Linked DNA regions of Homo sapiens. The protein of the gene in region 1 purifies or fractionates together with the protein of each later gene. This does not show direct contact. Each region holds a gene or a part of one and is shown on either strand. Other genes may lie near its edges. The genes, in order: LAG3, CELSR1, PCDH7 and FREM2.

Evidence for each region.
Region 2: the proteins of LAG3 (region 1) and CELSR1 purify together in Homo sapiens (affinity purification with mass spectrometry; one large-scale study listed by BioGRID and IntAct). This does not show direct contact.
Region 3: the proteins of LAG3 (region 1) and PCDH7 purify together in Homo sapiens (affinity purification with mass spectrometry; one large-scale study listed by BioGRID and IntAct). This does not show direct contact.
Region 4: the proteins of LAG3 (region 1) and FREM2 purify together in Homo sapiens (affinity purification with mass spectrometry; one large-scale study listed by BioGRID and IntAct). This does not show direct contact.

What each region holds. Positions count from the first base shown.
Region 1 is NC_000012.12:6,771,364-6,779,332, reverse strand, and holds LAG3 (lymphocyte activation gene 3 protein isoform 1 precursor), read right to left. Parts: upstream 6,814-7,969; 5' UTR 6,481-6,813; coding exon 6,423-6,480; intron 6,142-6,422; coding exon 5,994-6,141; intron 5,637-5,993; coding exon 5,332-5,636; intron 4,739-5,331; coding exon 4,469-4,738; intron 4,061-4,468; coding exon 3,785-4,060; intron 2,070-3,784; coding exon 1,827-2,069; intron 1,543-1,826; coding exon 1,412-1,542; coding exon of another isoform or gene 1,326-1,411; intron 1,090-1,325; coding exon 943-1,089; 3' UTR 878-942; downstream 1-877. UniProt on the Homo sapiens protein: Lymphocyte activation gene 3 protein: Inhibitory receptor on antigen activated T-cells. Delivers inhibitory signals upon binding to ligands, such as FGL1. FGL1 constitutes a major ligand of LAG3 and is responsible for LAG3 T-cell inhibitory function.
Region 2 is NC_000022.11:46,361,818-46,368,803, reverse strand, and holds part of CELSR1 (cadherin EGF LAG seven-pass G-type receptor 1 isoform 1 precursor), read left to right. Parts: intron 1-948; coding exon 949-1,075; intron 1,076-1,685; coding exon 1,686-1,811; intron 1,812-2,323; coding exon 2,324-2,418; intron 2,419-3,114; coding exon 3,115-3,218; intron 3,219-3,423; coding exon 3,424-3,573; intron 3,574-4,067; coding exon 4,068-4,292; intron 4,293-4,552; coding exon 4,553-4,808; coding exon of another isoform or gene 4,809-4,812; exon of another isoform or gene 4,813-5,556; coding exon 5,557-5,581; 3' UTR 5,582-5,616; coding exon of another isoform or gene 5,617-5,626; 3' UTR 5,627-6,986. UniProt on the Homo sapiens protein: Receptor that may have an important role in cell/cell signaling during nervous system formation.
Region 3 is NC_000004.12:30,920,394-30,927,906, forward strand, and holds part of PCDH7 (protocadherin-7 isoform d precursor), read left to right. Parts: intron 1-7,513.
Region 4 is NC_000013.11:38,859,050-38,866,562, reverse strand, and holds part of FREM2 (FRAS1-related extracellular matrix protein 2 precursor), read right to left. Parts: intron 7,277-7,513; coding exon 6,973-7,276; intron 5,133-6,972; coding exon 5,001-5,132; intron 2,289-5,000; coding exon 1,957-2,288; intron 1-1,956. UniProt on the Homo sapiens protein: Extracellular matrix protein required for maintenance of the integrity of the skin epithelium and for maintenance of renal epithelia. Required for epidermal adhesion. Involved in the development of eyelids and the anterior segment of the eyeballs.

The DNA.
Region 1 (7,969 bases):
CTGTATCTCCTGAGACATGCATTGTTCAGTCCCTCTCCTGAAGGGTGCATAGGACATGTGACAGTCACCGGGCACATACTCATATGCTGCACATAGAACGTGCATAATACAAAGGCGGTGCCTGCATTCACAGCAGTCTGTGCCCTGCCTTGTCCACTGCACTGCTCAACTCCTCAGGCCTGCCGCAGCCGGCCCAGTGACCTCCGTTGGGGTGTGACAAGCAGTGACCACTGGGTGGCAGTGTGTTCTCATGCCTGGGACCAGAAAAGCCTCCAAGGGCTGAGGAACGTGGGGGGTGGGGCAGAGGTAGGAGCCCCAGCCGGCTGCCCAGAGAGGTTTCCAGACCGGATCTCCTGGAAGACTTGACAAGGCAGTCCTCTGCGCGCCGCGCGTGTGTGTGTGTGTGTGTGTGTGTGCGTGTGCGCGCGCGCGTGTGTGTGCATGTGTGTGTGCACGTGCGCGCGAGCATATGTGCGCATCTGCTGCAGCCGGAGGGCCAAGGACAAGTGCTGAAGTGCAGCTGAGTGTGGGGTGGGGTGGACCCAAAGGACAAAAATATCAAGGAAACCAGGGCAGCCAGCGCACTGTGGGTGGAAGGTGGGTGGAAGGACGGAGGAGAGAGCTGCGGAGGCAAGGGGCAAGGGCTTTTTCGGGGGAGCTTCAGAGAAATGATTACCCAGGAGAGAGAAAGAGAGAGTGAGCGCAAGAGAGAGAGAGACCAAGAAAGAAACACGAAGCAGCCAGAAACAGAAAAGGGGAAGGTGAGGGAGGCTGGCTGGGGAAAGTAGGTTAGGAGGCTAGGGTGGGAGAAGGGAGCCCTCAGAGGCTGGGGAGAGACGGGAACCTTCACTTGGACAAGAAAGAGCCAGACTCAGGCTTGCTGCTGACAGGGAGTTTATTTGGACTGGGCTGCTGAGATCTGCTGGCTGCCTCAGCTCCAGGTCAGAGCTGCTCCGGCTCGGGCTCGGGCTCGGGCTCCGGTTCCGGCTCCGGCTCCGGCTCCGGTTCTTGCTCCAGCTCCTCTATCTTGCTCTGAGCCTGCGGAGGGTGAATCCCTTGCTCTAAGGCAGAAAATCGTCTTGGTCGCCACTGTGAGAAGAGATGGAGAGAGAGACGGAGGGCGGAAGGAGGAGAAGGATGAAGGGAAGCGGATGAGGAGGGACACTGAGTCCCTCTATTTTTTCTCAGCGCCCCTGCCCTCCCCATCTGGTCCTGGCTTTCTCCCAACCCCCCTTCCAGCCTACCCAGGCACAAGCCATCCCTGGAGTGAGAGGCTTATGAAGAAGGGGGGCTCTGAGGGCAAGTTCAGGGTCCCATTTGGTCACCTTCCTGAGGAAGGGGTGCCATCAGCACTCTGAGGATGGAAGAGCGGGAGCTGCTGGGGGGCGGGGTTGCCATGTCCCTGGCTCACCTGTCTTCTCCAAAGGTGAAAGCCAAAGGCTCCAGTCACCAAAAGGAGCAGAGAAAGGACACCAAGGATGAGAAACAGCAGGAGGTGGCCTGCTGGGAGGGCACCTGGGGCTCTCCCAGAGCGTTGGGCACCTATGGAGAAAGTACAGGATGAGGCATAGGGTCAGGACTAGAAAGGACACTTTGTCATTCTCTCAGACTTTACAGATGCAATGAGATCCAGAGAGTTTAAGGGACTTGTCCCAGGGTCATTCAGCTGATCAGTGGCGGAAACGGGTCAACCCTAGGCAAAAGCCAGAGATCAGGTCCCTGACTGGAAAGAAAAGCGCTGGGATGGGGGTGGCAGGGGCTGTTCTGGAAGGAGGATAAAGATTATTGCTGTGGCGTTTGGGTCCTGGCATTCTGGGGCCTCGGACCTGGGCTAGACAGCTCTGTGAAGTACACTGCTGCTCCAAGAAGCCTCTCCCCCTGGTACAGCTGGCATTGCCAAGGCTGGGAAAGGAGCTGGGCCTCCTGTGCCTCCAGCCAAGGTCCTGAGAAACTCCTCTGGGATGGGGTGTCCAGAGAGCTCCACACAAAGCGTTCTTGTCCAGATACTGGAGTCACCTCACAAAGCAGCTTCCCCAGGGATCCAGGTGACCCAAAGGATTTGGGAGTCACTGAAAAGAGTAGAAGGAAGAGATCTTTTGGGATTCTGCCCCCCTTACGTGATATCACAGGTTGAACCCCAAGTCTCAATCACCCTGCACTCACTTGGGTTCTGGCCAGGGGAGGTTGGGGAAGGACATCATGGGTCATGGCCACGTTCATCTTTTTCTTTCTATTTATTTTTTTATTAAATTGTATACAGATGCGTTTTCACCATGTTGCCCAGGCTAGTCTGGAATTCCTGGACTCAAGTGCTCCTCTCGTCTCAGCCTTTCAAAGTGCTGGGATTACAGGTGTGAGCCATCATGCCCTGCCGGCCACATTTATCTTATTCAGACAATGCTCTAGTCAGCTCCCTCCCCTGCTCAAAACATTTCCAGGCTCCCTACTGCCTTCACACTCAAACTGGCCCTGGCAGACCACAGAATAAATACTATTACAGATTCTTTTACATTACTTTCTACTCAAATGCTCAGAACCCTCAAAATCAGTCAGATGAGCTGACCCCCATCTACTTCACAATTTTGGAACTTCCATGATGCGGCTCACATCAGTGTCCCCTGCCTTGTGGTGCCCCCTGAATGAACATCATCCCCCTTTCTGAAGGTATAGAGAACAGGGAACTGACCCATTCATCTAGAGACAGAGCATTCTCCAAGTTGTAAAGTGAGAGATGGGTGGGTGGGAGGAGACAAAGGGTGAAGGGCATCTGAGTAGTGTCCTGGAGAGTGATTTGGTGATGCAGACACCTGAGTTTAGACCCAGAGTCTGGCACTTCCCAGCTGTTTTGAGAAAGTCTTCGGGGTAACAGTATCTCTCTCATTGAGCCGTCTACATAAAACAGTTGACCTTCAAGAGGGCATTGGACAGAAAGAACTGGTGGACTTTGATGACTGATGGGATGTAGAGAGGAGGAGGCCAGGTTTCGAGGTGGATGGATACCAGTGGATTACTGACAGGCTGAGTCAGCAAGGGGATTGGTGGGAGAAAAAGCTGGGGTTCAGGGTAAGGCGGCTGAGAGGTGGTATAACATCTAGTTAGAGGTATCCAGAAAGCAAGTGAAAACTCAGGATTGGCCTTCAGGAGATGTATTATCCATTAGCATGTTCACGTATTCATTCAATCTCTATACATTATTAAGCACCTGCCGTGGGGTGCTACTACTGAGTGGCCGCAGGTGCGTGCTGCAGACATGGCTAATCTGTCATGGCCGATAGTTATCAACCAGTCAACACATACTCTCTGAGTATTCTTTTTTCTGTGTTTGTTTTATACTGTCTTGGAAAACCCTTGCTCAGTAAATATTTGCTGACCAAGGGACGGATTTATTCACTCCTCCCAAATCCAGGCCACTTCCTGCAACTCTAACCCAAGCCCTGGCTGCAAAGTAGACAAGGATTCTAGAAATATATTCTACCTCTTTCGAACCATTCAGAATTTTTGTCACCTTTCCTTCTAACTTCCCAGACCCTCCCGCCAATTGAGAGCAGGGGAGTCCCATAGAGAACGGTGGAACTTTTATCTTGTGACTCAAGAGGAGATTTTCAGTTTCGTTTCTTTATTATGGGGGTGAGAAAAGTGGGGGCCGAGATGGGCAGGCTCTGGAACTTGTGCCCAGTGGCCTGGCATCACAGGGTGGGTTTGCCTAGTCTTTGCCCTGCCAGCCCTTCCTCCCTGTCCTTTCTACCCTGGGAGGGCAGCTACTCCTTTCCCACCTGAGGCTGACCTGTGATGATTGCCAATGTGACAGTGGCATTGAGCTGCTGTTCCTGCAGATGGATATGGCAGGTGTAGGTCCCAGCCTGGGCCTGGCTCACATCCTCTAGTCGAAGGGTAAAGTCGCCATTGTCTCCAGTCACCAGGAGGTCAGGGCCTCCCCCAGGAGGAGTCCACTTGGCAGTGAGGAAAGACCGGGTCCCCACACCAGCAGGCAGGCGGCAGGGCAGCCCCACCCTGGAACCTGCTCCAGCGTACACTGTCAAGGGAGTTGGGGGCTCCAGACCTGAAGAGAAAAGAAAACCCAAAGTTAAAGCTGGGTGCTGCAGTGGGGAGGGAGTGCTGGGGCTGCAAGGAAGGGAGGCAGAAGAATTCAGGAGATGGTCTGGCTCATAAGAGTGCTAAGGAGCAGAATAAGGTGATGAGCTGAGGAGGCTCAGAAACCCAGCAAGTGGGCTTAGCCGGAAGGAGAGGGAAGGCCGGCAATGACGCTGGAAGGCCACGGGAGAAGCAAGAAGGGGTGATGGCAGCTGTGAGGCTGCCAGCAATATAAAGGGGTCGAACAGTGAGACCCACAGCAATGACGTAGGCCACTCGCTGCCGAGAACCTGGTTTGGGGACCCATAGTTAGGGGAGGTGACAAGGGGGGCAGGAAGGAGTTGTGGTCAAATGTGAAGCAGAGTGGGGGAGTTACCCAGAACAGTGAGGTTATACATGATGGAGACGTTGAAGCCATCTCTGTAGGTGAGGATGCAGCCCCAGGGCCCAGAGTCCATGGGGCTGACTTGGGGCAGGAAGAGGAAGCTTTCCGCTAAGTGGTGATGGGGGGACTCCCGGACAGGGACTCGGCCCTGGCCCCGGTTCCGGAACCAATGCACAGAGGCTGGGCGGTCAGGGCGGCTGAAGGAGCAGTTCAAAATGACCCAGTCGGAGGCTCTGAGAGATCCTGGGGGGCTGGCAGTCACTGTGCAAGGATAAAGAAGACTTCATCAGCCCACTGGAAACAATTTCCCAACACAGCAGGGCTGCCAAGCCGGAAGCTCCTGGAAACAGGCACCTGGCTTTAGACTTGTCTTCTCCTCTCCCACATCACCCTCTCCCCATCTCAGCTTCCAGCACCTGGAGGTGCATAAAGTGGATCCCCAAGACTCCCCAGGACCACTTTCCCCGTCCCTGGCCTGGAGTTTACTTGGCATCAGCCACCCTTGCCGTTTTCCTGGCCTGGAACCCCGCGAAGCCCACCCCCTGAGCTACAGATATCTGAAATGAATCACTTTAGCCCCATGCTCTCCCCCCCTCCCCCTCCCTCTGGGCACTCCCGCGTGGGTGGGAGAAGGGGAGCTCGGGGGTGACACAATCTCTCCACAGGGCCCCCCATACACGTGCTTCGGGGGCACCTTCCACTCCAGCAGGCCGCCCACCCCCTTCCTCTACTCTTCTGGGAGCTCTCCGACAGGGCCTAGGGCGCAGCCTCTGCCCCAGCCCTTCCTGCGTCCCGGGAGGCAGGGGATGGGGACCCACCTCCCAGCCCTTCTCCCATCGTCCCGCCCCACATACTCGAGGCCTGGCCCAGGCGCAGACGGAGGCGGCAGGAGAGGGCGCGGTCCCTGAGGTGCACCGCGGCGCGGTACTCGCCGGCGTCCGCGCGCCGGGCTGGGCGCAGCCATAGCGAGAAGTCCCCGCGCTGCCGGCCGCGCTCATCCAGCTGGACGCGGGGCTGCAGGGGCAGCCTCCCGCTGCGCAGGCCTCCGGGACCCACGCTCAGCACCGTGTAGCGGCGGGGCCTGGGCCCCCAGGAGGAGGGCGCCGCCGGGTGAGGGCCGGGGGCCAGGGGATGGCCGGGGGCGGCAGCGGGCGGGCCACTGGGCGGGAAAGAGAATGGAGTTGAGAAGCTCCAGGGGTAGGAAGCCCGGGAGGATGCAGGCAGCCACCCGTTGAGGATGAGAAAGCCCGCCCCAAGAGTTCTCTTGACCACCAACCGTCCCCTCACGCCCGACCCCTCTGTTGGACTGGCCGCATCCACTTCTGGAGAGAAGGGATGCTGGCGTGAGGGTCGCTGATTGCAGAGCAAGGGCAGGAACGGTGCAAGCGAGGGCAGGGAGACTGGGTCACTGGCTTCAGAGGGAGTGACACCTCAGGGCAGGGGACAGAGGACCGGCACGGGTGTGGGGTTGAGTGCTGGATTCGGAGGTCCTGTTGCCCAAGTTTGGGGTGCATACCTGTCTGGCTGATGCTGCCAAGTGACCCCTGCTCTTCGCAGAAGGCTGAGATCCTGGAGGGGGATTGTGGGGCTGCAGGGGAGCTGGGCAGGAGCCCCCTCCTGGGCCCACACCACCGGGACCTCAGCCCCTGGCTGGAGAGGCTTCACTAGGTGAGCAAAAGAGAGGCCAAGGGGAGGGGGCGTGAGCCGAGAGGCAGGGGTAGAGAAGGAGCCTGGGTGTTTCCCGAGGGAGAAACAGGGTGCAGGAAGAACTTGGGTTTCTGTTTCTTCTCTGCCCAGAGAGGCTTTCGGGGTGGAAGGACTGCCCAAAAAAGGGATTAGAAGAATCCACAGAGCTAAGGACCTCAGGACCTTTGTGGCCACAGAGATCCCTGCTGGTCCCCTCCTGTGGGGCTGGAGGTCAACCCTCCCGCCATCCCCGTTTTACCTGGAGCCACCCAAAGCGGCTGCAGAAACAGCAAGCCCAGGAACTGAGCCTCCCACATCTCTCCTATGGTCTGGGCAGCGCTGAGCCCTCCAAAAGGAGGTCAGAAAAGGAAAGGGGGCAGTGGTGGGGGGTGGGGGGTAAAGGAGAAGTTCTGCAGAGAGGGAGGTGGAGGAAGGGGTTCTAGAAGAAGGGAGACCAGGAGAGGGCCTTGGAGAGAGGGTGGGGAGGGATGACCAGAGGCCGGAATCCAGAGGAAAGCTGGAAAGCTGGGCAGATCAGGCAGCCTGAGGAGGTGGGGGCGGGGGTGTCCCAGGGAACAGAGCAGGGCCGTGGCGGAGAGCAGACAGAGCAAAGTGGCCGTCGTGGCTGGGATGCCGTTCTGCTGGTCTCTGGGCCTTCACCCCTGTGCCCGGCCTTCCCTCCACCTTCCCCACTTCCCCTCCTCCCGGCCCGCCCCCCGCACCCCAGGGCTTACGGTTTCGCTTCGCAGTGGAAAGTCTGAGGGGGTTGATTCCCAGCAGCAGCACCCTCCACCTCTCCACCTCTGTGGTGGCGCTCCCCTTGTTTACTTCCTCAGTCCTGGGTCTCCCCACCTCCCCCTCCTCGCCCCTGCCCCACCCTCCAGACTGCTCCCTCTCCCAGGGACCTTCTGCCTCCACGAACCATTTCTGCCTGGAACTGCCCCCTTGCCCATCTCTAAGCTGCCTCCTCAGTCCCAATATTCACACCTCCTTCTTGGCAAGCTCTTTCCTTGTTGCTCAATCTCCTTCCTCGTTCCCTTAACCTCCCAGAACTTCGTGACCCCTTTAGACCTGCCTTTCCACCCATCAGTACAATGTCCCTGGGAACATGGTGGACAGGAAGCCTTACTGCACCCCAAAAAATGGTAGGTCTGAGGCTAGGCATGCCAGCTTTGTGGGGCATGGAGAATAACTACATTGTATTGAGGCTTCATTACGTGCTAAGCACTGTATTGGACACTTTACTTATAGTAATTCATGAAATCTAATGCTTTTCCCCATTGTACAGATGAGGAAACTGAGCTTCAAAGAAATTGTACAATTTGCCAAGGTTAGGGAGCGTGAAGATAAAAGCTGTGAGTGTACCTGTGTGCGTGACAGTGTGTAGTCCTGACCTTGGATGAGTTACGGGCGTCTCCTGGGAGAAATGATGCTGTTGATGAGTCAACACCCCTCCCCACTCCAACTCAGGTCCCCATGCCCTCAGAAGCATCCTCCAGTCCAGAGGTTCCGAACTAAGAGGAGAAGGCAAGGGCCATGCGGAGATGGAGAAATGCAGAAATCTTAGAAATCTCCTAACAGAGATCAAACTCAGGGGAAACAGAGGCAGTGGGACTAGGGAAGGCCCAAGACTGACAAGAGTCATACAACTCCCGCTCCCCAGCCCAGCCCAGGGAGAGTTGGAGGGCAGGTGACGAAACATACAGCCGACCTGGGGATGACACGAGACCCAGGATTTCCCTGCTTGACTGGAAGGAGCTCGCTTCCATGCCAGGCAGAGGGCATCTCTGATGCCAGGCAGCTCAC
Region 2 (6,986 bases), on another chromosome or scaffold:
GGAGGAGACCCCCCCACCCCACTGTCAGAGGGTGCAGTGGAACAGGGGCCCAGCACAGAGGGAACCTCCAGTGTTCTAGGGAGGAGAGGGGACCTTCGAGGCCCCAAAGGAGCAGGTGGCACCGCGGGAGGACTCAGCACAGCGTCCAGGAGCCACGACAGGGTCAGGAGGGGTTGACGGGGGCATCTGTCAGACAACAAGGCCAGCCCCTGGTGACCTGGTAGCTGAGATGGGACTGAGCCAGGGATGGGCGAAGGGATAATGCTTGCGCAGGGGCTGGGTGTCAGGAGGAGTGTGAGGCTCCCGGCCCGGGAGGAGAGAGCCGAGTCTGAAGGGGGGTAGGGCAGAGAGGGAGAGGCAGTGAGTGGCCTGGAAGGCCGGATATGGGGGTGCACGGGGGGTCTGGGGCCTTGTCAGTTCCTCGTCTTCAGTGCCATCCACGACCTGTGGACCTTGCGGGCTCTGTCACCCGGATTCACTCCATCCCCTCTGAACCCTGGGAGGGGATGCGCCTTTGTCTTCCCCTTGTACACATGGGGAGACTGAGGCAGAGCTCAGGAAGCTGATTGCAGGGTCACAGCTCAAGGGCAGGTCCTGGGCTCTTCCTCTTGCCTCTCCACAGGGTATCTCACGGGAGCTAGTGCAGCCATGGGCATGGCTCAGGCCCCTTGGCCTGGTGTAGTCCTCACAGCTCCTGTTTTCTCATTTGCTTCCTAATGTATTCCACCACCACCCCCACTAACACGAGCTCTGTCTGGTTCCCGGATGAGTCCGTACCTGGCTACGAGGGGAGGAAGGGAGCAAGGTGGATGATGGCTGGGTGGACAGGTGGACGGACAGATAGATGGGCGGACGGGCAGGCAGGTGGACAGGTGGACGTGCAGAGAGGGAGGGAGGAAGGGAGCAGGTGGTGGCGATGGGCACAGGCCTGATCCTGCCCTCCCGCAGCTCCCTGCTGAGGACCGCATTCCTCCTGCTGCTGCTCATCAGCGCCACCTGGCTGCTGGGGCTGCTGGCTGTGAACCGCGATGCACTGAGCTTTCACTACCTCTTCGCCATCTTCAGCGGCTTACAGGTAGGTGACGGCCGAGTTGCCCGCGGGACCCCTGCCTGGCCGCCGTGACACCATCGCTGTGATGCGAAGCAGTGGAGGCCTCTGCGGTCCCAAACCAGCCCTGCCTGGGTCCCGCGTGGGGGCCTCCTGTGGCTGTGAGGACTCAGTCCCTTGTGCAGCCGGCACGGGGGCTGGTGCCTCCTCCCCACTGTGTCTGGGGACGATGACCCTAGTGCCAGGCCAGCACAAGTCCACTTGTGTCTCCAGGGAACAGAAGTGGCCATTTCTAGTCATACCAAGGGCCACACAGCAAGTGGACTTACGACACAGTGGGGACCCCAGAGGGGCCCCAAGGACTGTGGAAGGAGTGCCCAGAAGACTGGCCTGAGCCGGGGCCCTCACTGCCTCCAGCACACCGGGGGTCTGGCCCAGGCATCTCAGTTTCTGAGCTCCCCCACCTGGCCTCCAGATAGCAGCAGTCCCTGAGGAGGGGAGGCCTGGCCGTGTCCTGGGCCGTGTGGCCGGACATGTTGTGTGCACTCAAGGCTGTATGCGCATCTGTGCTGGGGCGCCTAAGGGCAGGTGCCTAGGGAGGCAGCAGCAGGTGCTGACCCCACCTTCCTCCCTCCAGGGCCCCTTCGTCCTCCTTTTCCACTGCGTGCTCAACCAGGAGGTCCGGAAGCACCTGAAGGGCGTGCTCGGCGGGAGGAAGCTGCACCTGGAGGACTCCGCCACCACCAGGGCCACCCTGCTGACGGTAGGAGGCGCCGGGGACACCGCGGGACTGGGGGCTGGGCGGCATCTCGAGGGGCGGGGGAGGGTGATCGAGCCTCAGCCCCAGTCCTGCGGCCCGTATGCCCCTCACGGTGGGGATGGCAGAGCCGCCCGCGGTGCACGGTGTGGCTGCCGCGTCAGAACCAGAAAGTGACAGAATCGGCCAGATGGGGCCTGGGTCGCATCCTAACCCTGCTCTTCCAGGCCTTAGAAAGAGAGGGTCAGGACCACCGAGGATCCTGACCAGAAGCAGTGGCCGTAGGGAGGGCGGCAGCCCCTGACCACAGCGCGGGCCAGGATGTGCTTCCCTCAGCTGCCAGGAGGCTCTCGTTTGCAGTGAGGGTTGACTGCTTGGGGCCAGCTCCTCCTGTGTGCCAGGCAGGGGCCCAGCCAGGGTGTGGGTGTGGGGGGCTTGCCGTGGGGACAGAGTCATTCCCCGTGGTGGTCATGTGGTGGCCACCACTTGGCAGTGACCAGCCCCTCCCCTCCCTTCAGCGCTCCCTCAACTGCAACACCACCTTCGGTGACGGGCCTGACATGCTGCGCACAGACTTGGGCGAGTCCACCGCCTCGCTGGACAGCATCGTCAGGTCAGGCCGCAGCTCCGGGTTCGGGGAGGTGGCTCTCGAACTCCCTCAGGTTTTGCCCCTGCCACCCCAACCTGTGTCCTGCCATTCAACCAACATCACCTTCCACCCCCAACTTTCCACCCGCACCTTCTTCCCACCCGCAACTTCCCTCCCTGCCCCGCACCTTCCCTCCCCGCCTCGCACCTTCCCTTCCCCTGCACCTTCCCCCAACAACCTTTCCCCCACCAACTTCCCCCAACCAACCTTTTCCCGTGCAACCTTCCCCCCCGCACCTTCCCCGCACTGCACCTTCCCCCCGCAGCCTTCCCCCCTCCACCTTCCCCCTCCACCTTTCCCCTGACAACCTTTCCCCCCAACCTTTCCCCCAGCACCTTCCCCCCAACCTTTCCCCCCACCACCTTCCCCCCCAGCCTTTCCCCCCACCACCTTTCCCCCACCCAGCCTTTCCCCCCACCACCTTCCCCCACCCAACCTTTCCCCCCACCACCTTCCCCCACCCAACCTTTCCACCCACCACCTTCCCCCCACCCAACCTTTCCCCCCACCACCTTTCCCCCACATACTCGGGAGGCTGTTTTGTCTGTGCTGTTGTTGGGAACACAGAAGGGGTAGGGGCAGAGAATCTTCCAGAGAACTTTCCAGCACCTCCTGTTCCCTGACGGATGATACTGAGCCCACCCTCCCTGGCCTCTCTAGGGATGAAGGGATCCAGAAGCTCGGCGTGTCCTCTGGGCTGGTGAGGGGCAGCCACGGAGAGCCAGACGCGTCCCTCATGCCCAGGAGCTGCAAGGATCCCCCTGGTATGGCTTCCCTGGAGGGGGAGGACCCCGTGGGTTGTTTTTCCCACGTCCCTTCGGTCACTGGACAGACTGCCCCTGAAGAAGCACTAGCAGCCTCGCCATGCTCAGCGTCAGCATGCCAGGGGCCCAGTGGCTCTGCTTGGCCCTCGGTGGGACTCCCTCACCTCCCAGGGCCTGAGCCTCCCTGTCCCCCGCGCATCCACAGGCCACGATTCCGACTCAGATAGCGAGCTGTCCCTGGATGAGCAGAGCAGCTCTTACGCCTCCTCACACTCGTCAGACAGCGAGGACGATGGGGTGGGAGCTGAGGAAAAATGGGACCCGGCCAGGGGCGCCGTCCACAGCACCCCCAAAGGTGAGTGTGTGGGGCACATTGGGCCAGGCTGGGCTGTGGACAGCGGGCTCGGGGCAGGCCTTGGCTATGGCTGGGTCCCTTCCTCCCAGGATATGCCCAGCAGCACTGCAGCCACATGAAAGGACAGCCTGGGGTGGGGGGACTCTGGTTGGGCTCCCCCACAGCCTCTGGAGGGCTCCTCCAGGCCAACCCCCTGAGCGGAGGCAGGAACTCTCAGGGGGGTCTCTGTGGACTGTCACCGCAAGGTCCAGGTGAGGCTGCCAGTGGGGGATTAGCCTGTATAGTTACTGGTACAGATGCGGCGGGGGCTCCCAACAAGGGCCCTGCTGCCAGGACTCGCCCTCCTGGGCCTCAGTTTCCCCACCTTTAGGGTTCAGCCCTACCAGGCCTGCAGGTTGGGGAGAGGTGGGTCAGAGCCACCAGACCCATGGCTCTCAAGGGAGCAGCTCGAGTGGCAGTGCCGCTGCCTGCTGAGCACCGCTCTCGTGCCTCAGGGGACGCTGTGGCCAACCACGTTCCGGCCGGCTGGCCCGACCAGAGCCTGGCTGAGAGTGACAGTGAGGACCCCAGCGGCAAGCCCCGCCTGAAGGTGGAGACCAAGGTCAGCGTGGAGCTGCACCGCGAGGAGCAGGGCAGTCACCGTGGAGAGTACCCCCCGGACCAGGAGAGCGGGGGCGCAGCCAGGCTTGCTAGCAGCCAGCCCCCAGAGCAGAGGAAAGGTGCCTGGGGAGGCCGGGGCTGCAGTGAAAGGCTGGAGGACCCAGAAGGGCCAGTCCCTGGTCTGGAGGTGGGAGTGGGGCTGGGGCTGGTGGGGCAAGTCAGGGCCTGGGCAGAACAGACGTGGCCTCCTGGCCTAGCCCTGGGACCCGGGGAACCAGGAGGAAGGACAGGGGCTGAGGCTGGCTCAGCTGCACACGGCCCAGCAGCTGCCCCCGGCAGCATCACCCGGACTTGACCTTGCCGTGTCTCCTCCTCCCAGGCATCTTGAAAAATAAAGTCACCTACCCGCCGCCGCTGACGCTGACGGAGCAGACGCTGAAGGGCCGGCTCCGGGAGAAGCTGGCCGACTGTGAGCAGAGCCCCACATCCTCGCGCACGTCTTCCCTGGGCTCTGGCGGCCCCGACTGCGCCATCACAGTCAAGAGCCCTGGGAGGGAGCCGGGGCGTGACCACCTCAACGGGGTGGCCATGAATGTGCGCACTGGGAGCGCCCAGGCCGATGGCTCCGACTCTGAGTGAGTAGCCTGGGCCTCCAGGGCGGGGATCACCCACTTCCCCCTTGTCCTGAGTCAGGAGAGAGAGGGGGCAGTGGTCAGGGACCTGACACCCACCTCACCTGGAGCCCTGAGTGCAGAGGAAGCCCAGGCGGGGATGGGGGAGGGGGGAGGCGCTGCAGCTGAGGTCAGGAGGATACCCCGGAGATGGGCAGACCCCCTATCCTGGGGACACGTCTCAGGCCTCTGGGACTCTGAAGCCCTGGCCAGCCCCAAAATGCTAGGACCTAAGGTGCTGGGCTCTGCGTTTGATCAGCATTGTCTCCGCCTGGGACCACTGCCACCCACCTTGCAGTTGAGGATACTGAGGGTCCCGGAATGCCAGGGGTGAAGGGGGCGGGGTGGAGCTGGGGTCCTGGCCCCAGACCTCTCCCTGTCGCCCCTCCCTCCCTCCAAACTCACAAGGGAGAAGCCAGGTCTTCAGAATGCCCCTTCCAAAAGTCACTGTAGAGATGGCCGGTTTCTAACGTGGATTCCTTGCGCTCTTCTGAAAGACCAGCAACACAGAGGCCCACAGGCTGGTCCTGGTCCCCTCTCCTGCCTCCCAAGGGCAGCCTCATCCAACATGAGCTTGCCCTCCCTGGAGCCCCCAGACGCCCCCTCTACCCTGATGGGGTGATCCTGCCCCCCCGTGTGACAACCTTGGGCCCCACCAAGCCGCTACCCTCACTGACCCTTCACCTGCTTGCTGGCTTCTTCCCACGCGCAGAGGCAGTAATGAAACTTCAATTTGAACCATCAGTAATGAAACTTCAATTTGAACCATCAGGAAACCGTGAGGCAAGCCCGTCACCCCACACAGGCTGCGGCATCACCCTCAGACCTTGGAGCCCAAGGGGCCACTGCCCTTGAAGTGGAGTGGGCCCAGAGTGTGGCGGTCCCCATGGTGGCAGCCCCCCGACTGATCATCCAGACACAAAGGTCTTGGTTCTCCCAGGAGCTCAGGGCCTGTCAGACCTGGTGACAAGTGCCAAAGGCCACAGGCATGAGGGAGGCGTGGACCACTGGGCCAGCACCGCTGAGTCCTAAGACTGCAGTCAAAGCCAGAACTGAGAGGGGACCCCAGACTGGGCCCAGAGGCTGGCCAGAGTTCAGGAACGCCGGGCACAGACCAAAGACCGCGGTCCAGCCCCGCCCAGGCGGGCATCTCATGGCAGTGCGGACCCGTGGCTGGCAGCCCGGGCAGTCCTTTGCAAAGGCACCCCTTGTCTTAAAATCACTTCGCTATGTGGGAAAGGTGGAGATACTTTTATATATTTGTATGGGACTCTGAGGAGGTGCAACCTGTATATATATTGCATTCGTGCTGACTTTGTTATCCCGAGAGATCCATGCAATGATCTCTTGCTGTCTTCTCTGTCAAGATTGCACAGTTGTACTTGAATCTGGCATGTGTTGACGAAACTGGTGCCCCAGCAGATCAAAGGTGGGAAATACGTCAGCAGTGGGGCTAAAACCAAGCGGCTAGAAGCCCTACAGCTGCCTTCGGCCAGGAAGTGAGGATGGTGTGGGCCCTCCCCGCCGGCCCCCTGGGTCCCCAGTGTTCGCTGTGTGTGCGTTTGTCCTCTGCTGCCATCTGCCCCGGCTGTGTGAATTCAAGACAGGGCAGTGCAGCACTAGGCAGGTGTGAGGAGCCCTGCTGAGGTCACTGTGGGGCACGGTTGCCACACGGCTGTCATTTTTCACCTGGTCATTCTGTGACCACCACCCCCTCCCCTCACCGCCTCCCAGGTGGCCCGGGAGCTGCAGGTGGGGATGGCTTTGTCCTTTGCTCCTGCTCCCCGTGGGACCTGGGACCTTAAAGCGTTGCAGGTTCCTGATTTGGACAGAGGTGTGGGGCCTTCCAGGCCGTTACATACCTCCTGCCAATTCTCTAACTCTCTGAGACTGCGAGGATCTCCAGGCAGGGTTCTCCCCTCTGGAGTCTGACCAATTACTTCATTTTGCTTCAAATGGCCAATTGTGCAGAGGGACAAAGCCACAGCCACACTCTTCAACGGTTACCAAACTGTTTTTGGAAATTCACACCAAGGTCGGGCCCACTGCAGGCAGCTGGCACAGCGTGGCCCGAGGGGCTGTGGAACGGGTCCCGGAACTGTCAGACATGTTTGATTTTAGCGTTTCCTTTGTTCTTCAAAT
Region 3 (7,513 bases), on another chromosome or scaffold:
CACATAATCACGCTAGTGAGCCGTAATAAGTAGACTCGCGAAGGTCAGTCTAAAACCAAAATAAAATAGCTGACATTAAAACCATTTTATTTTAAGTGATAAATATTTGCTAAAATACAGAAATGCCAAATAAAGGAACATAACTCTGTAGATAAAATTCACCCAAATTGCACCATCATTTTAAAACATCCTGTCAGAAATAAACGCACTTATAAATAAATCAGAACAGGGCCCACTATGAAGGAAGCTAAATAAGTGCAGAATTCCTAAACAATAGTCACCAAGAAAGGTCTTGTCTAATTGTTTTCTTCTATTCATTTTTGTCATGCAACTATTTCTTCAATTGCAGCTGTCCAGTCTTAGTGAAAGGAAATGAAAGAAACATACCTTGCTCTACCTTTTCTTGTCCTAGATGTTTAGAAAAGCATTTTCAAACCTCTCCTTTCCTATGATCACTGAATAGGGTCAAAAGAGAACAGTACTACTTTGTTCTCCATAGTATGCAATAAATGCTATTAGAATTTCCCTCCTATTCAAGTATAAGGTTTTTTTTTATTTTTATGTGAGAGAAAGGAAGGAAAATAAATCATAATACTCCATATTTTTATACTGTTTTGAGGTGATTCTCATAATTACCACAATTGGCCTTGTATACATTTTCTTTTAAGTTATACATTTAGATTGCAAATAGCACTTATAAAACTTTCCACATTTGTTTATATTCCCAGAGATAATTTGGTGATTTATTTTCTGGATTTTGAGTCATAAGTAAATGCCTGAGGAATAGGTTTGTGTCAAATAATGGAATGGTAAAATTCATCCTAACTTCATTATTCTTTCAAATATGAAGAGAGAGATGGTTAAACAGAGAGAAAGGAAAGGAATCACACACATTTTATCCCTAGTAAAACTTGCAGTGGATTTATGTCTTTTGCCATCTCAACCCCCGAGTGACATAAGACGCTCTAACTTTTTGTTATATATCCGTTTCTTTAGTGCTGATATATATGCAAGTAGAGCATATTAATGCAGGAGAAAGACTGATTTTCTTCTGTAAGTTTACCTATGAATATTAAAATCCAATATTAGAATATAATATATTATAAAGGACCCCAAATGAAAGTATTGCTAAATTATATTATGCTAAATAATTATTTATCCACATTGTTCTTGGTTAAGAAAATATGATATCAGGGTCTGATGATTGACGTCCCTCTTGATTAATTTTGCAGAGTTAAAATGGCATTTTGCCTTATGGCTATAAAAGCATGCTTATCTGTGTGTATGGTGGTGTGTGCTTATGTGGATGGGAGTCTGGTGTGGTTTCTAAGAGTTACATTTTTTTTAGTAATTTTTTTAATGGGCATATAATTTTGGTATGAATTGCAATGCTGATGAATATATATTTAAGGCAGATATGTTTAAAATTATTTGGAAAAAGAAATTAAACTAAAAATACTGTAATTACATACATACTATGTAATTACATATGTAATTTGGATGTCAGCTTTATTAAAAAAGGACTTTGTACCCCTGGCATTATAATCATTTTTCAATGTTAGTTTCTGTTTTATGAGTTTATGGGGATTCATCACCTTTAAAATAAGAAATAAGTGATGAATAATTAAAAGATAATTATGTAATTACATGTATGTAGCCACATGTAATTGCATGTATGTAGTCACATGTACTATAGTGTATTACGTTACATATGTGTAACGTGTAATTACGTATGTGTGATATATGTAATATATAATATGTATATAGTACATATAATTACTTATATGTACATATGTATGTAATTACAGTATTTTTAATATAGATAGATGATAAATAGAGCATACCTAGGAAGGCAGGATTAATTTAATTTAGGGGTATTACTACATCTGAGATTACCTGTTCATGAGAACATATAATTTTGTTTGTGTTTTTAAAAGTGCTTATTCTTACTGTAAAGCACAGAATGTACAATTAAATCTTTATTTTTTGGATGTCAGCTTTATTAAAAAAGGACTTTGCACCACTGGCATTATAATCATTTTTTAATGTTAGTTTCTGTTTTATGAGTTTATGGGGATTCATCACCTTTAAAATAAGAAAGAAATGATGAATAATTAAAAGATAATTATATATGACAAACACATATCGGTTACCTTTTAGGAAACACACATGTCATGGAAAACTTAACAGGTGAGCTTGTTAATAAAATATAAAGTATACTGAGAAAGAGTTCCAAAAAACGACTTTTAATTCTTTTTTAGAACCAAGTTTTTAAGGCCTGTCAAAAGCAAGGGTCATGATAATGTAACGGATCTTTCCTGATTTTGTATGTGACCAACACTTGAAAGTCAGAGTTTATATGACCATTTGTCATCTACTGGCTGTGATTCATGTTAGCCTTGATCTATAGGTAATGACAAAATGAGATGCGATGCACTGTGGCTGATCTAAATGTAGCAGTTGACCTTTGAGTAACAAATTTGTTGGGTCCGTGTTTTCAGACTACTCATCTAGCCATAAAGTGCAATTGTGTTGCTTAAATTCTGGTAATTTCATCTTCAGTATTAATGGATCATTCTGACATAAATAGAATTGGAATTGAAACCTGTCAAGTATTCATTTGTCACATTTAATTGGAATCCAGGTAATCTGTAGTTTTTTGCTTGGCTAGGTTTTAATCAGGATTTGTATTGGATTTTCATTTGGATTTTCCATTAAAATACCATTTTGGATGCTGTGCTAGTTCCTAATTATTATTACCTCAAACATTTTTCTTGAATTTTAACCTATGTGAAACAATGCAGTTATCAGCAAGTGTTTGGGATTAACTTTCATTGTAAAGTTTAGAAGATAATTTCTAGTGCAATAACAAGTAAAATTCCAATGTCATGCTAACAAACCAGGAATAAGTTAGGATAGCTAATGATAAAAATACATTTTCACAAATGCAGAGAAGGAACAGAAACAAGAAAATTTAAGTGAAATGTACTTACATTTTACAAAAGCGTTATCTTCCTTCTGTACTGTAGTATGATGAATACAATTTCATTCAAAGGGCCTGTGTATTAATTCCCTGTTTAACAAGCTTTACGCTATATTCTAAAACACATTACCGCCAAATGTAGAATGAGGTTTTATTCTCTTATTAGCTAAGGAAAAAGAATATACCATAAGAATAAATATAATTTCTTACCACCGGAATCTAATAATGTAGAATGAGATCCACCATTTTAAAGTTCCAAATCTGTAGAATGCCACAGGTCCCTGGAAAGTAACACTAGAAATTACCCCATTTAAAAAATATTTTAAGAAAACCTTATTAGTTATACATTTATTTGTGACAAAGATTACTAATATATATTTCTTTGCCTTTAATTATCATCATTATGATAATTTCATGCTAATCTTTTAATATCAATCTAATCAAAGATTGAGGAAATTGGTTATTTGTTTCATTAAAATACATTTAGCAATAAAGTAATAATTCATATAGAGTTTATGGGGGAAATAGGTAATACAAACATTTGACAATGAAAATGTTAGAATAATTGATGCATATTGCAATGGATTGGTAATTCAAGTTAAAAACCAAACATTAGGCTTAAAAGCACCATCTCATTCAAGGCAAGCATTGACTGTGCAAGAGTTTGCTCTTATTTTAATTACGCAGTAGTCTTCAGACTTTCTCTTGGAGTGGTATACAATGGTTTCTTTAGGTCTATTGTATTTATCCTGGTCCCTACCTTCATGCCATGACCTACTTGATCTTTCCAAAGCCCCCTCTAAATTATCTTTGCAAAGCCAGTTTGCCTTTGCTATGTAAGTCTTTATGATAATTAGTGTTTAATAAGCTCAGATATAGAAAACACCTTGCTTGGCTTCTCATCTCAATTTTGCCATCAGCATTGGGTAGGCTACTGTCTAAGGAAATTGATAAATCAACTCTGAAATCTTACTCGGTTCCAGGTCCAATAATCTGTGATTCTCTTACATTCAATTTTTCTTGTATCTTTTATGCTATAGAATGGAGACATTTGTCTCATAGTAAGATAGTGAGTGAATTTGACAATGTATGTTAATGTGGGCAGGCCAGTAGTGATTCTAGGGCCTTTCTCTGAACCCACACAGCAAGTGCATTTTAATAGTAGAAAATGCATTTATTACATAAATCAAAGGAGTGGACTGAATCAAATGGTGTGATTTCTGGCCAGGTGGGTGGAAATGTTGGCACCATAGTAGGCCAGTGTGGGAGACAGCTGTGGAGCCTCCTTCAGATCCCACTATGCAAGAACCATCTGTAGATCTGATCAAGCCCTGGGTGCAATGCCCTTGAAATACATGAATTATGATTAAGACATTTCACAATAGAATAAGCACATGTGTTTTCTTACTTAACAATGTGAACTTTGGTCAGAGTACAAATGAAAAAAAAAAGGTAGGAAATAATATATATTTTTCTGTAGGTAGACTTTCTTAAATATCACACCATAAAAATAAATTAAAAAAAAAACAGCAGATGATCCATAAACCAGGTTTATAACAAGTTAAATGAGGTTCGAAATTTGGCCACTCTAAATCCCTAATTCATTTTATGCCTCTTGATTTTCTCAGATCTTTAAATAATACTTTTGACTTTATACATGAATATTTTTGAACTTTCCCTTTCCAAACTTCCTTACTTTGTCACACTTATATAAGCTAAGCTCAACTGTTTGATTCATTCCATTTCCTTCATCTCTTCATTCTACATGCATTATACCTTGTCCTTGATTATTTAAACATGCTGCAGTAAAACATGGACTTTTCATATTGCTTTTAGACAGTGTATTTGAAATATCATTGAGAATAAGCCACTAATTTTAAATGGCCAAGTGTAATGAGCATAGAGACCAAAGGCATATCTTTGTATGAGATAAAGGACCTCCTCTTTCTCTCTCCTTTTCTCCTGTCTCCCAATTTTCAAGCAGGCATCTGTCAGGCAAAGTTGTCTAGTTATTGGTTTGTGCTGATTTCACGTAGATTGAGCAAACTTCTCTAGCAAGGCTGCCTCTTCCATCTTTCCAAAGATCCTCATATACTTTTTAATGGCATAAGCACAATACCTAAAATACCAAATACCTGTCATACCTTTTTTCGTCTTCTGCAGAAAGAGACTAACATGACTTGCTAAGGATTCATTTTCACAGTTTTGCATTTCTCTGTGCCACCCTAGTTGCCAGTGTCTGACTGAGGCTGCAATTGTTTTCACCTTTCCTGTCAATTGTGACATGGCTCTATACCTCCCAAGTATCCCCCAAAAGTCTGTATGCCACCACTTTGGGAGGGTGCTATTCACTTTGAATTTCTTCATAGTAATATATAGAGAGATGGATTATAGAGACTGTCTCTAAGCCAGAACTCAACTAATTAAAATGTGTGCTATAGTGGCTTCTCAGCTGTCTAGTAAAATGAGCAGTACAATCTAAAAGAGTCTAAAGAAGGTACTGTCCTAGAGAAGAATTGGCAGTGCTGTAAGTAGAATCTACTGGTTTACAAAACAAGCTTTGAAATCTGATGACCTCAGTTTGAATCCTGGCTTTACCTCCTACAAGGAGTATTATTTTCTAACCCCTCTTAGCTTCAGTTTGTTCAATTGCAAATCATAGGATTGCAGAAGGAACTAAATGAGACAATAATATGCAATAATTTATAAATAAGTAATAAGTTGTATTTTCACTATATTAATTGATAAAATGTTTTACCATTATTATTTAAATAACAATGATAAATAGTTGGGATTATTATTAACTTTAGGTCGTTTTTTTTTTTTGAGATGGAGTCTCACTCTGCCACCCAGGCTGGAGTGCAGTGGCACAATCTCGGCTCACCGCAAGTTCCGCCTCCTGCGTTCAAACCATTCTGCTGCCTCAGCCTCCAGAGTAGCTGGGACTATAGGCGCCCGCCACCACACTCGGCTAATTTTTTGTATTTTTAGTAGAGACAGGGTTTCACCATGTTAGCTAGGATGGTCTCCAACTCCTGACTTCGTGATCTGCCTGCCTCAGCCTCCCAAAGTGCTGGGATTACAGGCGTGAGCCACCACACCCAGCCAACTTTAGGTAAATTTGATATAATACAATGGCTTAGTCATGAGGACTTCATAAAATGCTCAGCCTCACAAATTTAGCATTTTTAAATTACCAGTATAAATTATATTCTCACCTTAAATATTTTCCAGTTAGTTTTTTTTCTTTTGTTTCGAGTACCATAGGGTAGTACTCATGACTAGTGACTTATAAATATAGCAAGGACCTAAAATGAGGGGAAGGAAGTCTTCTATCTCTTGGCATCAAACCAACCGACTCTTTGTGTTCTTTGTCATTCAAGGTAGGGAGATGTCATTATGGTCTTTCTACATTCTTTTCTCTTTTTTTAAGTGTTCTAGTTGAATGCATTATTTTTCAGGTGTACACCTCCCTTTAAAGTGCTGCAAATTATTCACATTAACAGGGAAAATTAGCTGAAAATAATGTCCAATTAGTATGCTTACCAGATTCTCAGTCCTTTCTTTTCTAATCTCAATATTAATAATTAACTCTGATAAAATGTGTGGCCGTATTACCCTTTTATTCTAATTTGGTCCTTTTAAACTAGATCACTTTGCTGAACCCTTATGACATTTGAGGAGGGAATGAGCGCTCATCAAATCTCAAAGTGACTTTGGAGGTCAGTTAGTGGTTTTGTTACCTCCAGACTCCCAAAGCTTTTGCTTGTGTGAATTTCAGCACTTGTTGATAATACATTTGATTGTTTTAGTTCCTTATTTAGTTAAGGTGTTATCTCAGTCTTTCCTGTGAATTCTTTTTGCTTATAGATTACATATAATTCTATTCTTCCTCTGATGTTATTGCCAGATTTATGTATAAAAAAACCTTGTGCTGTGAGGAGCCCGTCTGCCCGGCCACCACCCCGTCTGGGAGGTGTACCCAACAGCTCATTGAGAACGGGCCATGATGACAATGGCGGTTTTGTGGAATAGAAAAGGGGGAAAGGTGGGGAAAAGATTGAGAAATCGGATGGTTGCTGTGTCTGTGTAGAAAGAAGTAGACATGGGAGACTTTTCATTTTGTTCTGTACTAAGAAAAATTCTTCTGCCTTGGGATCCTGTTGATCTATGACCTTACCCCCAACCCTGTGCTCTCTGAAACATGTGCTGTGCCCACTCAGGGTTAAATGGATTAAGGGCGGTGCAAGATGTGCTTTGTTAAACAGATGCTTGAAGGCAGCATGCTCGTTAAGAGTCATCACCACTCTCTAATCTCAAGTACCCAGGGACACAAACACTGTGGAAGGCCGCAGGGTCCTCTGCCTAGGAAAACCAGAGACCTTTGTTCACTTGTTTATCTGCTGACCTTCCCTCCACTATTGTCCTATGACCCTGCCAAATCCCCCTCTGCGAGAAACACCCAAGAATGATCAATAAAAAAAACCAAAAAACAAAAAAACCTTGTGCTGCTAAAATATAACACTCTTA
Region 4 (7,513 bases), on another chromosome or scaffold:
CTGAGTAGCTGGGATTACAGGCATGCGCCACCACGCCCGGCTAATTTTATTTTATTTTATTTTTTTTGACAGAGTCTCGCTCTGTTGCCTAGGCTGGAGTGCAGTGGCGTGATCTCGGCTCACTGCAACCTCTGCCTCCCGGGTTCAAGTGATTCTCCTGCCTCAGCCTCCTGAGTAGCTGGGATTACGGAGCCCACCACCACACCCAGCTAATTTTTGTATTTTTTTTTAGTAGAGACGGGGTTTCTCCATGTTGGTCAGGCTGCTCTTGGACTCCCAACCTCAGGTGATCTGCCCGCCTCGGCCTCCCAAAGTGCTGGGATTACAGGCATGAAGTCACTGCTCCTGGCGTATGAAACGATTTTAACAAGGAATGAGAACTACAACATAATCCTATTTCTATATCCAATTTTGTTTATACCAATAGATGCTGTGATGTAAGCAACAATCTGAGAGAAAAGCAACCAGAAAGGAAATAGAAATAATTTAGTAATGGATTGAAGGCAGCTTTGTAAGGAAGACATGAAGGAAGTAGAGATACCTGATCTATAAAGAAAAAGAGGTAGATTTGTTAATATGAGCCTTTATTTTTCTTCTAGGGATTGAATCTTTATTTTTCCATGTTTCTTTCAGGTGGCAAAAACAGGTTAGGAAAGAGGAATCTACAGGATGAACACTTATACGTGTTTAAGTAACTTGCTCAAAGACATACAGCTAGAAACTATCAGAGCCAAATTTTGGTCAGCATTTGCTTGATTCCAATATCCAGATTCCACCATCTTATACTGCTTCTCTATTGCTATTTCTATTGGCATTTTTAGCAATCCCTGTAAGTTACTAAATGTTGCTGCTTTTTGACAAGGTGGCTATGGTCATGTCTCACCACCTCTGAGTCCAATTCAACATCAACACCAGCAGAACTTGTCAAAGTCCACAGCTTTACTGTGGGATTATCTCATACTAGTTATCTAGTTTTTTCTTGCTACTGGTTGTTACATATTTCATTCAACACCTTATGAATATAGCACAAAAAAGGGCAGCCTAACTTTAGCTCAATCTGGAAGGGCATTATATAGTCTATATATCATTCAACACTTCAATGCATAAACCTACTTATGTAACTCCTTATTTAGTCCAGGTAAGATTATAGCATTGCTTTTAGTTCAAATACTCATAACAATTTTAAATCATGCCCTACATATTTTAGGTTCTCTATTGTAACCCACAAGAAGATCTTGCTTCCTTATCATTTTAACAACTTTGTTGCTGATGATGGGGTGGGGGTGAGGATTGTGTGTGTGTATGTGTATTTTATGTGTGAATGTGTAGTATGAAGAAGAATCAGTAACTGTAGAGTGCAAATAACAATAAGTTTTAATAAAAACACTTCTGACTATGTTAATGATAGATAAATGAATCAAAAAGCGAAGAAGAGGAGAAAAACAGAAAGAAAAAGAAGGAGAGTAAAACAGGAGGCTAAAAGCAGAGAAAGTTTTGTAAAATGTAGGGGAAGAAGAAAGTCAGAAAAGAGGGAGAAAAATTAGGCTGACTCCCAGGATTGTAAAACCTCACTTTAGGTGGCTCATGATACAACATCACAGGCATCTACACATAAACACAAAAACAACATAGTGTATACTTTGAAGAGAAGTCAGTATTTGGATTTTTATAATATCAGAGTAGATTTTGAGCTTAAGGCAATAATTATACAGCATCCTTTTCACATAGATATAATGTTTCTAGCCCATTGTCAAAAACTACGTATATTCTGGCCCATTGTTAAGAAATAGACACGGATTTTCACACCATCCATGCCAGTTGTCTGGTCCCTTGCTGTCAATAATTACCTACAACACCAAGATGGAAAACTGGAGTTGGGACTTAGTACAAATCTATGTGACAAAACAAACCAATTGGTTTATCCAGTGACCAAACTCAGATGTTATAAATCTGTACCTGTCCATCTGTTCCAATGGTGCCACCACAGTCAGCAAGGAGTTCTGACATGTCATAGTAGCTAACGAACTCCCATAAACAGGCCTCTAGGTTCAGGTTCCGGTAGAAGCGCAAGGTAGTGGAACCTCTGATGGACAAGCTGTACTGGTAAGGATATGTCTCTCCAATTATTTCTGGATTTTTGGTAGCATCAGTCAAGAAACCATAATGAGTCTTCACTTCAGTATAATCCAGGAGGTTGGAGCACTTGTGGTTTCCAACTCTTGTGCCATCAGGGCTGAGGGTGAGCTCAAAGTTGGAAAGCTCTCTAGTGGAGATCACGGGGAGCATGCCTATGATAAATCGAAATCATTGTTAACAGTCTTTCAAGTAGCCAAGAATTTTGAACACTTTAAAACTTCTTTATCTCTTAAGAAAACAAGTGTCATAAAATGCCATACAGCAGTGGTGTATGGCATACAGATCAAAGTGGTGTCCAGGCCCGGTGACGTGGCTCATGCCTGTAATCCCGGCACTTTGGGAGGTCTAGGTGGGTGGATCATCTGAGGTCAGGAGTTCAAGACCAGCCTGGCCAACATGATGAAACCCTGTCTCTACCAAAATTACAATAGCTGGGCATGGTGGCGGGTGCCTGTAATCCCAGCTACTTGGGAGGCTGAGGCAGGAGAATTGCTTGAACCCGGAAGGCAGAGGTTGCAGTGAGCTGAGATCGCACCACTGCACTCCAGCCTGGACATCAAAGGTGAAACTCCACCTCAAAAAAAACCCCTACAAAAAACAAAAAAATAAAAAAGTGGTATACTAAGAACCCTGGGGTTCCCCAGGAAAATTTCAAGAGATCCATGACTTAATCGCTATTTTCACAATGATAGTAAGTTATTATTTGACTTTGCCACCCATATTCTCTCACAAATGCAGTTTTTCAGAGACTACAAGATATGATAAATTGCAACAGATTGAATGCAGAAGCAGAGAATCCAGTTATCTTCTATTAAGTCAGACATTAATGATATCTTCAAGAATATAAAAGTGCCACTCATCATTTTTTTGTTTTATAACATAGTTTTTTAAAGGATGTATTTCATGTTAATATGTAATGTATTTCTTTTTGTAATTTTTAAATAAGTGAATAAATAACAATTCCTCAGTTTTAATTTAAAATCCAATAAATATTTATAGATATCACCCACATAAACAAAATCTCTTTGAGATCTTCAATAATTTCTAAGATGTCCTGGATCATAAATGTTGAAAACTGGCCATGCGTGGTGGCTCACATCTGTAATCCCAGCACTTTGGGAGGCCAAGGCAGGTGGATCACTTGAGGTCAGGAGTTTGAGACCAGCCTGACCAACATGGCGAAACCCCGTCTCTACTAAAAATGCAAAAATTAGCCAGGCATGGTGATGCACGCCTGTAATTCCAGCTACTTAGGAGGCTGAGGCATGAGAATCGCTTGAACCCGGGAGGTGGAGGTTGCAGTGAGCTGAGATCGCGCTACTGCACTCCAGCCTGGGTAACAGAGTGAGACTCTGCCTCAAAAAAAAAATTTTTATAAAGTTGAAAACTACCACCATTAAAAAGTACAGGCTAAGGACTGAAAATTTGTTCCATAAAGGGTCAAATAGTAAATATTTTAGCATTGTGGTCCCTGAGGTCTCTGTTGACTGTTCAATGCTGCCATCAGAGTGAAAGCCACTACTATGTGAAAGAAGAAACAGAACTGTGTGCAACAAAACTTTATCATGGGCAATGGATTTGAATTCCATACCATCTTTATGTCTCAAAAGTAGACTTCTTTTTTTTTCCCCAAACATTTAAAAATATAAAACCTATTCCTAGCTTGCAGACCATATGAAAACAGGCAGCAGACTGTATTTGGCCACAGGACATAGTGTGTTGAGCCCTGGCATAAGCAATACAGCAAAAGACTATGAACCAGTTCTTCTCTTTGAGCCTTTCACACCTCTTCCTCTCAGATTCACTCAGAGCAAAACTCCGGCCCCACAGAAGAAGTGGTCAGCCTCAACTACACTTCTGGCAGAACTGTGGCTATTGAACATTGAACAGTGCATTCAGAAAACGCAAAGCCAAGCCCTAGGAGTGGCAGAAGAGACCACTCTTTCTTTTAGGAAATAACTCTTATAGGTCTGTGTTTCCCTGATGGGTCCCTTCTCAGCCCTTTGCAGCTCAAGTCACACCTCCACATGGACCTACAGACTGGGTGGTTCAGGGACCAACATTATGCTATAAAGGAAGGAATGCAGATTCCTGACCACCTGCCCTTCCAATCCCCAGAAAAATCTCAGGTTGTAATAGGAAGACATAGCAGATGTTCTTGTTCTGGGGGAGGTAGATTCTACGTTGCAGCTCCTAATCGTATTTCCTCTCCCTTAGCTACATAAAATATAACTAACATATCAAGTAATTTTATTAACAATTTGCTATAAGTATAAAGTGATTTGAGTGGAAAATAACTTGAAAATGCCTTCCGCACATGGTAAAATATTCATAAAGTATGATAAAGTTATTGATGCACACATTCTGGTCATGGCTACCTAGCCAGAGAAAATAGACACAATATTTAATACCTGTTAGTTTCATTTTTTATTTTATTTAAATATCTTGGAAATGTCTTACAGTTACATGATAAATATTGAGAGAGACATAAAACTCCAGCTATAAAACTGCAACACATGTTGAAGGTAGGTACTAAGATATCAAATACTTTACTGTAACTTCAAGTTTACGATTGAAGATGCATTTGTACTCTTTCATAAAAGCTAGACTAGGTACCAAAGTTTTGTTTTATCGTGTCTGGATATGTATTACATCTACCTAATTTTAACGAATGCTTACACTGCCATAGTTATAAAAACAGGGTAGAACAAAGCTAAAACAGTTGAAAGAAGTGGAAGGACTTGAAGCTCAAGTTGCAAATTGAACGTTTATTTAAGCTTGGTTATTTAGAAGATGAAGGAAAATACAACAGGTAATGAGGAGTCCAAAACAATTCCATGGATTTGCTTACCCAAGTCACCTACCATCTATGTGTGGCATTGTGACAGTGAGCTTGATAAGGTTTGTGTAGTCTGCATCCTCAGGGCCTGTGTAGCGCAATTTAGCTGAGAACGGCTCTGCTCCAACAACCCCAGGTACACGGGGCTGACAAAGACCTTGAAAAAAAAAAAGACCATATTTATGCGAAAAGAAGGTAATCAATAATACCTAAAGAATGTTTTAGAAAATAGGAGCTATTATTTTTCTGTGTACTTTCAACTTCTCTGTGGAGTAGGGCATGGCTAAGAGTGTACATCACGTGATAAGGAATTAGAAGTCCACAGGGTGAGAAGTAATCACAGCAGACAGTTAGTGGCCACTTGACAATTTATGGATTGTTCAAACTTTGAGAAAAAATTTGTTACCATTCAATGTAACTTAATGTGTGCTGGTTATTCTAGGTCATGGTCATATTCACAAAATCATTTAAATATAAAGTATGAACAGATACAGTAAAAATGACTGAAAGTCAGTAGGATAAAAGTAAGTGTAGTTAAACCAAGTAAATGTTATTTTTACTCTAGAATAATATACTTATCATTAGTTATGTTTACATTACTTATAAGTGAATAAAACTAAAACTGTGCTCATTTTAGGAACAAAAACTAAAGTCTCCTTAAAAATCAGAGAGCAAAATATGTACAGTAGAGTTTTCTCTATAGATGTAATTTTTTACAGTATGTGTATTATACATTATAATCCATTTTATATTCATCTCTTTCTGTCTCATATCTCCCAGTGACCTTCAAGAATTTGGACATGAAACTCTTTCTCCAGTATTTCCTTTAGGAAAATAGTGGGGTTTCTATTTGAACATCATGAAAGGAACCAAGACGCTGAATTATAATTTCAGGAGAACTTGGAAAGATACAATTACTTATCTATTTGTATAAAACAGAGAAAATAGACAAATATGTATTAGAATAGCAAGGAAATCAGAGTCAGGCCCCAGCATAGAGGCTGTCTGATTTATTAAAAGAGAGAATCATTTTAAGGCATTATTTAAATATTTGATCCTGAATATATAGTAGTCACAGGTGGGACATATGACCTCTATGCAGTAAATTTACTTTTGAATGCGGTGTGCAAATAGATGATTTAGAAATAGAATCAAATATATACAACCGTTTTTAAGAAAAATCTCATTAAAAATTATTCTGCAGAGTGAAGGATTTATTTATACAGTGGATTTCCTGTCTTTCCAATGTTGTCCCCAGCCACATCCTATTCTCCATCCCCAATGTGTCTTTGCTCCAGCCTTAAATACAGTCTCTCTTGTAATACCAAGGTGTTAATTTGCACGTACCCCTCTATCTGGACTGCCCTTCCCCTCCCGTCCCCAGCAAAATCCTACTCACCCAACAACCAGCTGGTTTCCTTGCATGGCATGAGCTCTGTTCAGATCTGAGCCTTGCATACCATTTTGCCTTGTCTCCTGGTTTTTCCTCCTCTCCCTCTCAGAAGCTTCCCCATTTCTCTGCTTGCCATTCCCACAATATCCCGCATTCTTTCTTGCTTTTATGAGTTGTTGCTCATGCTTGTTTTCCTCTACTCTTTTCAGATTCAGCTTGAGCCTCCCCTCTTTGATAAGCCTTTCCTGACCCACTCAGGGTAAAACTAATCACTTCTACCTGTGCATTCCTGTGCCCTGTCTAGACTAAAATGTGTCTGCATCTTCAACTGGACCAAGAATTCCTCAAAAGCAGGGATCCTGTCTTCTTTATTTTATTGCCAGCACAAAGCATTGTGTCTGGCATATAATAGATACTTAAAGGTAGAATGAATAAATATTTTGTTTTCTAATACATAATTTTGTAAAAATAGATTTTAATTTTTCACTACTTACAAAATATATGGAATATGTGGGACATTGGAAGTATTAATAACCAGAAAGTAGACATTTGTAATATTGCACAGTATTCCAGTGATCTTCAGGGGAAAATGGCAATGACTGACCTTCTTCTCTGCTGATGGTTACAATAGGGCTCATGAGCTCCAGGCCTTCATCCCCATTGGTGTTCACAGCACGAGCTGCGCACTGTACCCGGGAGCCAGGCTGAAAGTATATGGAGTCCAGTGTGACCATCTTGGATGACGTAAAAAAGGTGTCGAAGTCCACTTCTCTCATAGGGCTGGTCACACCGTCAGGGCCCGCAGGTGCACTAATCAGCCACCGGTACCGCGTCAAAGTGTCATTGATGTTCTCACTTGCACAGATAGAGCCTGTTTTATCGTAGTCTGAATATTTGGGGTTGCAAGCCTACGGAAAACAAATGACTGTGTTAGGAACAGAGTGTAGAACAGGTGGAACGCATTCTTCTCCCGTTCTCTGCCATCGAGTTTTCACTGCTGCTTTCCCCAATTTCCACATGCTGTTTATACAGCTTCCGAATTTTGATCCCCAGGCATGATAACATTTATAAACATAATCTTGCATTTCAAACAGCTTATTGGATGTTTCTATTTCTAACTTAATATGTGTAAAATTGTTATTTAT